Regions from separate parts of the Homo sapiens genome. Here region 1 is linked to region 2. A link means that fine-mapping ties the variant in region 2 to the expression of a gene that starts in the linked region. Tissue or cell type: whole blood. Region 2 holds a variant in brackets; the other region holds the start of a gene. All regions are shown on one strand. Distances are from middle to middle.

Evidence for each region.
Region 1: ZNF35 starts here. The variant in region 2 is fine-mapped to the expression of ZNF35 in whole blood (INTERVAL, PIP above 0.99).

Annotation. Positions count from the first base shown.
Region 1 is chr3:44,646,356-44,651,734 of GRCh38, reverse strand. It overlaps ZNF35 (zinc finger protein 35), which reads right to left and starts at 3,003. Exons shown (of 4, transcript NM_003420.4): 1 at 2,901-3,003; 2 at 476-794. The coding sequence starts at 667. It overlaps ZNF660-ZNF197 (ZNF660-ZNF197 readthrough), which reads right to left. Exons shown (of 8, transcript NR_147692.2): 8 at 3,264-5,379. ZNF197 (zinc finger protein 197) reads right to left here. Exons shown (of 6, transcript NM_006991.5): 6 at 3,264-5,379. All of the region lies in intron 2 of ZKSCAN7-AS1 (ZKSCAN7 ZNF cluster antisense RNA 1), which reads left to right. RefSeq lists enhancers at 2,521-2,630, 2,711-2,880, 2,759-3,318.
Region 2 is chr3:44,621,050-44,626,428 of GRCh38, reverse strand. The region is part of intron 2 of ZNF660-ZNF197 (ZNF660-ZNF197 readthrough); the gene reads right to left. ZNF197 (zinc finger protein 197) reads right to left here and starts at 1,393. Exons shown (of 6, transcript NM_006991.5): 1 at 1,286-1,393. The region is part of intron 2 of ZKSCAN7-AS1 (ZKSCAN7 ZNF cluster antisense RNA 1); the gene reads left to right. It overlaps ZNF197-AS1 (ZNF197 antisense RNA 1), which reads left to right and starts at 1,632. Exons shown (of 2, transcript NR_046658.1): 1 at 1,632-1,707. RefSeq lists an enhancer at 558-1,060 and a silencer at 1,040-1,389. The variant CTTTTTT/T (reference allele first, on the strand shown) is at 3,174.

The DNA of each region.
Region 1 (5,379 bases), 25 kb before region 2:
CAGCCTCCCAAGTAGCTGAGACTACAGGCACGTGCCACCATGCCAAGCTAATTTTTTGTATTTCGGCATTGCAAAACACGAGGTGTGCAATGTTGCTCAGGCTGGTCTTGAACTCCTGACCTCAAGTGATCCTCCCGCCTTGGCCTCCAAAGTGCTGGGATTACAGGTGTGAGCCACTGTGCCTGGACCACGGATTCTGATTTAATAGGAATAGAATACAGTATGGACATCAAGATTTTATAAAAAGCTCTCCAGGTTCTGTGTAGCAAAATTTGAGAACCACTGGTTTACAGAAAGTACTGAATGTCACATCAATCAGAAGGGAATGTTTCTATCCTATTACAAAAGACTGGAAGCTAGAATTGTACCCAAGAAATAAGACTCCAGGTGTGGAAGCAGAGGGGCAGAGTCCCCTCTTAAACTACTTGAGGTCTTCAAGTATCTCCTCCCCTCTTCCTCTCAGGCCCCCGTTTACCTTTTCTTCCTCTTCTGATCCATCAAGGCCTGTCTGAAGACCCTGCACTGGGGCCCAGACTTTGATGTTCTCGGAGTGCACTTGTTGGCTGGATGCCTGACCTGGGAAGTTTTCTTCTTCTTCCTCCTCCTTTTTCACCTTCACTGGGCCCCATGGGGCTAGGGCCATGGCTTCTCTCAATTCTGCAGTCATCTTCTCTGCTCAGCAGGGGAACTCCTATAGCTGGGCGCTGCCCTGCAGAGGTCAAACCCCATCCAAGCTTTATGTTTCAAAAGCTTCTTCTTGAGTTTCTTCCCAGGGCCAAGATGAGTACTGCCTACTGAGAAATCAGAAAACACTGTTAGCACCAAGGAGAGATTTGCTGGATGCCACTTAGCAAATTTGCCGGATGCCACACCGGCAAATTTCACCAGCGCCTGGCCAGGGGCCAATGTAGGACATGGAATCCTCTATTCCTCCCTCATAGGATGAAGGGGTTGGACTATAAATATGTAATATCTTCCCATAATAACCACATTGCAAACAGCTTTATATAATGTTTATTGATTTTTTCCTGATTAAAAGTTAACTTACTTTTATTGTAAAAACTTAAAAGCAGCAAATGATTAAGAAAAATCATCTCGGTCTACCTCCAAAGAGATAACCACTATACATTTTAAGATTTAAGATATTTCTTTCAAAGGAAAATCTCCAACCATACTACTAATAATTATGATTTTACAAATTCTTGTTTTTGACTTTGGGGATACATATTTTCACAATTATCATCATAGCATTTTTTAAAAAAGGATTTTACAACAAAAAGATTTTTTATTGCCAAGGATACAAAATAATGTGAACAAAAGGATCCCAAGAAAAAGACTGGGAGTCTTTATACCAACGTGTTAGCAGTGGGTAGTTAACTCTGGATGGTGTAATTACAGGTAGTTTTAAGGTTCTTTTCATTTTTTTTGTTTGATTTTTACATTTTCCATAGCTTCCAAATGTCCTGTGAGATAAAATATTACACTTAAGATTTAAAAAAAGATTACTTTCATGTTGCCATTCTTCATGCTTATTTTAAATGCTACACAATAACCTATGGTGTTGATAAATCTTCACTCTCATTGAAAAAGGATCAAGTAATACAGAAATATATAGAATTAAATATATAACCTACACACACTACACACACACACACACACACACACAAAGTACTTATCAGTTTAGATGGGAGTCCTAACCCATTTTCTCTGCATTTACATACTTATATGTTCACCTTCACACATATTGCTTATTTTTCAAAAACATACTTTAGATCATCACAGTTATATACTGTTCAGCAACCTGCATTGTTTTTTAACTCAATTTCCGTATTTCACAATAGTCTTAACAATCTTTCAATACAACACATATAGAACTACCTCATTCTGGCATAGTATTCTAAATTGTGGCTATATTATCATTTACTTAATCATATTCTATTTATGAACCATTTATTTAGTAAAAGTTTATATTTCCATTTTATTAATATTTAAAAGTTTTTCTTTGTAAATATTTTTTTTTTGCTGAATTATTCCTTTAGAATAATCAGAGAATTACTGGTTCAAGGATTTGCTGGTTGATATGTACTGTCAAATTGCTTTCCAAAAGCACCATGCCAATTCACACCCCCACTAATTGACAGTAACCCTTTATCACAGCTAAGCCAGCAGGGTTTTTGTTTTTAACCTGTGAGCAAAATAACCTTACTAGTTTGATTGCTTATGAAGAGATTGAAATTTTTCTTTCTAACCCCCTTTGAATGTTTTATTGGAAAAGGGTGCGAAATCTTATTCAATCCCCTGTTGCTGCTATTGAAGTGATCATACTCTTTTCCCCATGTCAACTTACTGGCCACTTACTGTATACACTGAATTTATTAAGTAATGCAATACTTTCATTCCTGTGACAAACCTTAATTCTGGAGGACTATTCTTTCCATCACTATCCGAATTCAATCTGGTATGAAGGTCCTTAAGACTAGTTCCACCTTGTGTATAAGACTGCCTACAGTGAGTACTCTCATCAGACTTCTGATCAGATTCTGACGGACCTCCGGTCCCAGACGGCACAGGGCCCTCTATCAAAGGCTCCCTTTCAACGTCCTTTCTCTATTTCCAAACGTGGCAATCCATTCTTTCCACGTATAGGCTCCTCGCGGCCCTGTCCCTGGGACCTATCTGGCCCCTTGGCCGGTCCGTGTGCATCCTCTCCCGGACCAGGCCCCAGGTGGGCAGCAGCCGGGATTCCGAGGCGGTGGGGAACTCACTGCCCCCCGCACCCCGACAGACAAGGCTGGTGTCCCCGGGGAAAGGACGCAGGGGCCGCTCCTAGGGCCATGGCCCCTGGGAGAGCCCCTTTTTCTCCCTCGACGTTCGTGCCCACCCCCTCCGACCCCACTCACTGTGCGCAGCTGAGAAGCCCGACCTGAGTTCACTGGCTCTGCAGCAGGAGGCTGGCTGACCGGTACTTCAGCTTCTACCGGCACGAGAACAATGACCGGACAGGAAGTGCCTCGGGATGGGCTTCCGGCTCCCCAAGTCGCCAAGCCGGCCTCTCTAGGAACCTCGGAGGTGCTTTCCTCTCGATGGGTGTCCAATGTCGCCCCAGACCAGGGATGGGGCAGAAGCGCTTAGGAGGATTGTGCTGTTGGAAGCTCTAAGTGAGCCTCAGGGAGGGGCGCATCCCAAGCAGGGATGAGACACTCAGGCGAGGCGCGCACCCAAGAGCCTGAAGCTACACAGCATTAATCTGTAGAAAGCCCTGATAATTTCCCCTCAAATGTTTTATTTTGAAAATATCAGAGTACAGAAGAGTTGAAAGTATGGCACATTGAATACCCGTATTTTCCATGTGGACTCAACAATGAACATTTTGCTATGTTTGCCTGATCTCTCAATACATATTTAAAATCATTTTTTTGAAAGTTGTAAACATCAGAACACTTCATTCCAAATACTTCAACATGCATCCCTTAAGATTAAGAATATTCTTCAAACTACCACCACCGTCACAGGTAAGAAAATCAACAAAAATTCCCTAATACCATCTAATAACCAGTCATATTCAAATTTCCCAACTGTCCTAAAACATGTATTTTATAACTTTTTTTCAAATCAGTTTCACACACTTTAGTTGGTTACAGCTCTTTAGTTTTGGGTTTTCGTTGCCATTGTTGGTTTTTACTTTTTATTTTGAAATGATAGAATCACAGGAAGTTGCAAAGATAGCACCCTTCACCCACTTTCCCCTCATGGTTACATCTTACATAAAATGAAAAAGGAAATCAACATTGGTACAGTATGTGTGTATAGGTATAGCACCTATAGATTTGTGTAACCACCACTGCAATCAAGATACACAAGTGTTCCATCACCACAAAGACCTTTCTGGTGCTACCTTTTAATAGTTCCATCCAACCCTCTCCCCATTTTTCCTCCCACCATCCCTAACCTTTGGCAACCATTAATCCATTTTTCATCTCTATAGTTTTATCATTTTGAGAATGTTATATGAATATTTTCATACAGAATATGGCCTTTTGTGATTATTTTCACTCAGCATTAATTCCCTTGAAATTTATTTGAGTTGTTATGGATATCAATAAGTCAATTTTATTGCAGAGTAACAAGTATTCCATGGTAATACATAAACCACAATTTGTTTTAACCACCTAAGGAAGGATATATGGGTTGCCTACAGGTTTCGACCATTACAAATAAAGCTGCTATGAACATTCGTATACAGGTTTTTGTGTGAACGCAAGTTTTCATTTCTCTGGGATAAATGCTCAGAAGTGCAATTCCTGAAGCATGACATATACATGTGTGGTTTTACAAGAAACTGCCAAATTATATTCCAGAGTGGCTGTACCATTTTACATTCCCAGCAATGTATGAGATCCTGTTTCTCTTCATCCTTGCCAGCAGTTACCACCATTAAAAAAAAAAAGTTAAGCTATTCTGATAGGTGATATCTCACGATTTTACTCTGCATTTCCCTCATGCCTAATGATGTTGAACATCTTTTCATTTGCTTATTTGCTATCTATACTTCAGTGAAATGTCTGTCTTTTGCTTATTTTCTAATTGTATTTACTTATTACTGTTAAATTTGGAAAGTTCTTTATGTAGTTTACATACAAATCCCTTGTTGGATATGATTTGCAAATATTTTTTCCCAACCTGTAATATCATCTTTGTAAAAAGGTCTCTTACAGGGTAAATTATCTTAATTTTGATGAAGTCCAATTTAACATTTTTTTTCCTTCTAAGGAGCATGCTTTTGAGTCATCTGAGCCTTCTTAGCTCAGTCCTAGGTCCTGAAGTTGTTGGTTTACTGCCTATGGATATCCAATTACTCCAACAGTATTTGCTGAAAAGGCGATCCCTCCTCCATTGAATTGCTTTTGCCCCTGTCAAAAATCAATTGGCCATTTATGTGAGTCTATTTCTGGTTCTTAGTACCTAACGGCTCTCTAGTATTATCTTTTAAAAACAAGCCTCCTCATCCATGTTTTATACCTTTCATATCGAAATTTTCATACATACACAAAAGCAGAGAATGGTATAATAAACTCACAGCAGACTCAAGACAGCTTGAACAATTTTCACTCCCCTCTCTTTTTCATCATAATAATATTTTGAAGAATCCAGGGCAGCTTTCTTATGCAATATTCCACGTTCTGGATGTGTCTGTTTCTCGTGGTGTCTTTTATTTGTTCCTCTGCCTCCTGTATTTCCTGTAACCTGGCAATGAGGTCCAAGAAGCTTGATTAAATTCAGGTTGAACATTTTTCAGCTTATTACATCACAGAAGGTGGCACATTATGTGGGCTGTCTCAATCTAAGCAATGTGACATTTTGTTACTCGGTGAAGAGGTA
Region 2 (5,379 bases):
AAAGTGTTTTTTGCCATGCAGTCAATCTTTTACGACTTCTGGGTACTGTACCACAATTAGAAAGACCTTTTTCACTCTGAGCATGAAGAGAGTCTTAAGTGGTGTCAGGACTCTATTAGTGAGAAATGGTGGGGGTGGGAGGGCTGGATATCAAGAAAGGTCAGTTAGGTTTTTCTAATAGTCTAAACACATGACTTAAGTTCTAAACGAAGTAGGGATAAGGCAATTGAGAAAAACTTGGTAGTCCTTGGTAACTGATCTGGGGGTGATGGAAAGGAATTTTTAAAAAGAATTTTGAATAATTTTCAAATAACATAAAAATAACAAATTCTTAAACATACATTTTATTAGCTTCTCACAAAAGGTTTTCAAAGCAGAAGTTAAAAAAAACAAAAGGATCAGAGGAGCGAATCCACTCAAGGCCACTTAGCTAACTGAGACATGGGAGCAAATTCTGAATTCAGGGATTCTAATTCCAGAAGTCCAAAACAATTCCATCTACGAAGAAACTTATGAAACCCAAACAACCCAAACTGTTCTAAAACAACAGTTTCCAAACACCAGTCCACGACAAAGCTTTAATCTGGTAAGCTGCAAAAAGAGAAAACCAGTAACAATCGTCGCTGACAGGTTGGCAATGAGTGTGTGTGTGTGTGTGTGTGTGTGTGTGTGTGTGTGCGCGCGCGCGCGCAAAGGCCAGCATTTATTCTGAGTTTACGGTCTTAGTACTTTGTGTTAAAATGTATTGCCTGAAGTAATGTTGGTATGGGTGGTTTCAAGTTTGAGTTTTTCAAGTTTGATTTTTAAATACCATTATATTACAAAACTAAAAGACTAAAAAAGCTAAAATCGTTCCACCCCTTAAAACAAACAAACAAAAAAATCCGTCCTCAAGAGTCTGGGCGCCACCGGTAATAGGGAAACCTCAGAATGTTTCTGTGGATTAGCCTCAGACAAGACTGAGGAAGAGCAGAAAGGCCTGAGCTGGGGGAGCAGGCTACTGAGGCAGCTCTTCTCAAAGCGCCAGCAGAGTCCGTTAGACAGGAGCACCGGTCCACAAACACACACAGACTCGGAGCTGCTGTCCTCAGTACTTCCCTCGGGCCGGCTGCCTGCCCAGCCGAGGCCACGACGTCGAACCCCAACACGAAGCTGGCGACGGACCATGCCGGGGGTCAGGGCCCGGGAGAGGCTACCGAGGGCTGTGCAGTCCCAGCAAGCTCAGGCCCGCGTCCCGGGCCGCCTTCCCTGCACGCCCACCCGCCCCCGAGCCCACCCCGCTCACCGGGGGCTCCCGCTGCGGCTCCAGCCTTGCGTACCGCCGCCTCGGCGCCAGGCCGCTAGGAGATGACACAGGAACGAGCCCTTCCGGCAGCCGAGGCACAGAATAATGGCCGAGCCGAGAATACTGCGACTTCCGGTTGCACCCCGCCCCTCATCCCGGATCTCTAGGAAGCCACATCTCTATGGTTCGTTTCTTTTCCCAGAACTGGGGAAGAGAGGCGGAACTCCTGAGCCCTTGGGTACTAGTGTTCCTTACATCGAACAAGAACTGGCCGCTGTTTCAGACCGGAAGGGTGCAGAGATGAAAGACAGGACCCAGGGTCTCAGGATGCCTGTTGCCTCCTAAGAGAGTTGGACATTTCTATTTTGATTTGCATTTCAATTGAGGTTGATAGGGAGTGACCTTCACGTCTGAATGACCTGGTAGGTGACTTTTCTGGTCTCTTCTTGAACTTATGCAATTCTCACTATAAATAATAACATGACTTATAAATCACCCTCTTGTGAATTCGCTTACTGTGGTGTATCTCTTGCCCACATGATGACATATTGGAGCTATGATATTAAATAATAATCAAGTTGATGGTGCAAGGTAATGTGCAAATGGTAGGGACATCTCTCCCCTGAAAGAAGAGGTTATTCTAGCTGTCCATCGCCCTGGGTAAAGTCAGGTGTATATAAAGGAAACTGGCACTCTGATCCTCTCTTTGGTCTTCAGTCTCTTAAGTTTGGACTTCTGGAACTGACACCCCTATATGGGACTATGGCTGAAACAAGTCTCCAAAAGGGCAAAGGCCATGTCTGCATGGATCCCATGTATTTAGCACCTAGTACAAAGCTGAAGCCATATAGGTTGTAGATGAATGTTTATTCAATGAGCAAGGTTCATGTTATTCTGTTTATGTCTTTTTTTTTTTTTTGAGATGGAGTTTTGCTCTTGTTGCCCAGGCTGGAGTGCAGTGGCGCAATCTTGGCTCACTGCAATCTCCACCTCCCGGGTTCAAGCGATTCTTCTGCCTCAGCCTCCTGAGCAGCTGGGATTACAGGCACGTGCCACCATGCCTGGCTATTTTTTTTTTTTTTTTTTTTTTTTAGTAGAGACGGGGTTTCACAATGTTGGCCAGGCTGGTCTTGAACTCCTGACCTCAGGTGATCCACCCCCACCTTGGCCTTCTAAAGTGTTGGAATCACAGGCGTGAGCCACCGTGCCAGGCTTATTCTGTTTATTTCTTTATGTTCTCTCCTGGCATTCATTAAACAACATACTTAAACTTCAGCCTTGATTCATTCATTCATTCAACTACTGAGTACTTGCCATATGCCAAATACTGTTCTGGGCACTAGGGACATAGATAAAGAGGTAAAGTCTCTGTTCTCATGGGGCTTACATTTCTAGTGGGATAAACAGAAAACAAATATAAAAATGTGTCAGGTGGTGGTAAATGCTAAGAAATGTGAAAGCTGATCATAAGAATTGGGTCATTTTTGTCATACCTAATAAAAGAAAGTCGAGAAATTAGCTGGGGGAAGCACTCAGGGTACACAACATTGCTCCAGGAATGTTATTCTCTGTAAGCTTGACTGCTGAAACTGCTTATTATAAGCCAAAACCAGTTTTATCTATAGCTTCTGAGATAAGTTGCTGCAACTCTAGGACTAATTTTGCCCACCGCAGTTGCTCACCAACTGGAGCTTGTCAGCTCCCCACACCCTTACTACTGCCAATGAACTTTCTCAAAGAGCAATATGTAACATTCCTCCTTTTTGTAAAACCTCTAACCTTCTCTTTGTTCTTCAGAGAGAGCACCACTTTCAGTTCAAGCCAGAGACTATCTCTCCGAGTTTGTAAACTGATGTTGTGAATAAAACTTTCTTTTCTTTCTTTCTTT[CTTTTTT/T]TTTTTTTTTTTTTTGAGATGGAGTCTCACTCTGTCGCCCAGGCTGGAGTGCAGTGGCGCGATCTCGCTCACTGCAACCTCCGCCTCCCGGGTTCAAATGATTCTCCTGTCTCAGATTCCTGAGTAGCTGGGATTACAAGCGCACGCCACCATGCCTGGCTAATTTTTTGTATTTTAGTAGAGATGGGGTTTCACCGTGTTGCCCAGGCTGGTCTCAAACTCCTGAGCTCAGGCAATCCACCCGCCTCGGCCTTCCAAAGTGCTAGGATTACAGGTGTGAGCCACTGTGCCGGCCAACTTTCTTTTCTACTATCTAGCCATCCTGGTGGTCCTTTGGATGACATAAAAAAGGGTAAGGAGGACCCAACAAAGGAGACTGAGAAGCAGCAGCCAATCAAGTAGGAAGAGAAGAAGGAAATAGTACTTTATGGGTCTCAAAGTATGAATGAGTAGATTTTGAAATATTGATCAATGTGATTGCTGTTCCCCCCACACTAAATTATAATTTTACTTGTAAACCAAGGCTCCCTTCTCCTCCCCTGCCCTACCTAGGTAGACAGGAGTTACACACTATGGGACTGGAAACAAAAGTGACAAAAACGATAGTGAGTTAGGCCATTAGAAGCCTTTAGTAAGGTGAAAAACATTCTTGCCTTGCTGGGAAAGAAGAAAGGAATGGGAGGAGCCAAAATGACCAACTAGACTATGGACCACTGACCAGTGAGCCTGTAATCATTCACACTCCTACTAAGCAATGGCCCGGAAGCATGTAACCAAAGAGTTGTCAGCTGGTAAGAACCACCAGTTGCCAGTGGCCAGCCCAGAGCCTCAGTTTTGTCACTCAGTTTGTGCCCTGAGATTCTGCCCATCTGACAAAGAACTTGAAGCACCCTCACCACTGTCCCAAGATGAAAGACTTGGTAACCTTGTGGAATGATGGTGATAGGAAAGGAACACCCTATCTTTGACCAAGGTGGAACTATACAAAACCTGTTTAAAGTGGGCCAGAGCTCTGGGACAGTGGTATAATACAACACATAGCCTTTGTTTTACATACACACACATTCCTGGTATTTAAAATCCCCAAATGTACTGGTGAAAAAAACTAAGCAAACAAGAAATAAATGAGTTTGAGATAGGCATATGAGAAGAGGCTGGAAGCACAGGACTGACATTTCAAGATGGGTTAAGATCTTAGACTACTGATCAACTAAAATGGAAATCCCGGTCTGAATGGAAAGTTTGTATTTCTCATCTTTCTATAAAACCCCACTTTGCCAGAGTTGTTTTTAATGCAAATTGGAATGTGATTGACCTATGACCAAGGATTATATGTATATAATATATATGGCTAAGAAATCTCAAGACATGCAATCTGAAGACCCAGGAGAGCTGAAGGTATAGTTGTAGTCCAAGATCTATAGGCCTAAGAAGCAGAAAAGCTGCTGGTGTAACTTCCAGTCTGAGTCCTAGTCGGAATCCAAATGTGTTAGTCTGTTCTCGCACTGCTATAAAGAAATGCCTGAGATTGGGAACTTTATAAAGAAAAGAGGTTTAATTGGCTCACAGTTCTGCAGGCTGTACAGGAATCATGGTACCATCTGCCTCTGGGGAGGCCTCAGGGAACTCATGGGGGAAGGCAAAGTGGGAGCAGATGTCTTATGTGGCAGCAGAAGGACCAAGGGTCGGGGGAGGAGGGAGGTGCTACACACTTTTAAACAACCAGGTCTCACTCACTATCTCAACACAGAGCCAAGGGGTAAAGCCATCCCTATGATCCAATCACCTCCCATCAGGCCCCACCTCCAACATTGGGAATTACAGTTTGACATGAGATTTGGGCGGGGACAGAAATCTAAACCATATCACCAAAGGTGGGAGAAGACCAATGTCCCAGCCAGAAGACAGGCAGAAAGAGCAAATTCTCTCTCAGTCTTTTCCTTCTACTCACATCTCCAATGGCTTGGATGAGGCTCACTCATGTTAAGGAGGGCAATCAGTCTACAGATTCAGATGTTAATCTCATCCAGAGATACCCCCACAGACACTCAGAATAATGTTTAGCCAAATGTCTGGGCACACTATGGCCCATTCAAGTTAACATGTAAAATGAACTATCACATATGGATTCTTCCAAATACAGTTCAGGGCATTAGTTATTTAAAGATTTTCTAGGCACTGAAGGGCATCCACAGTGGTT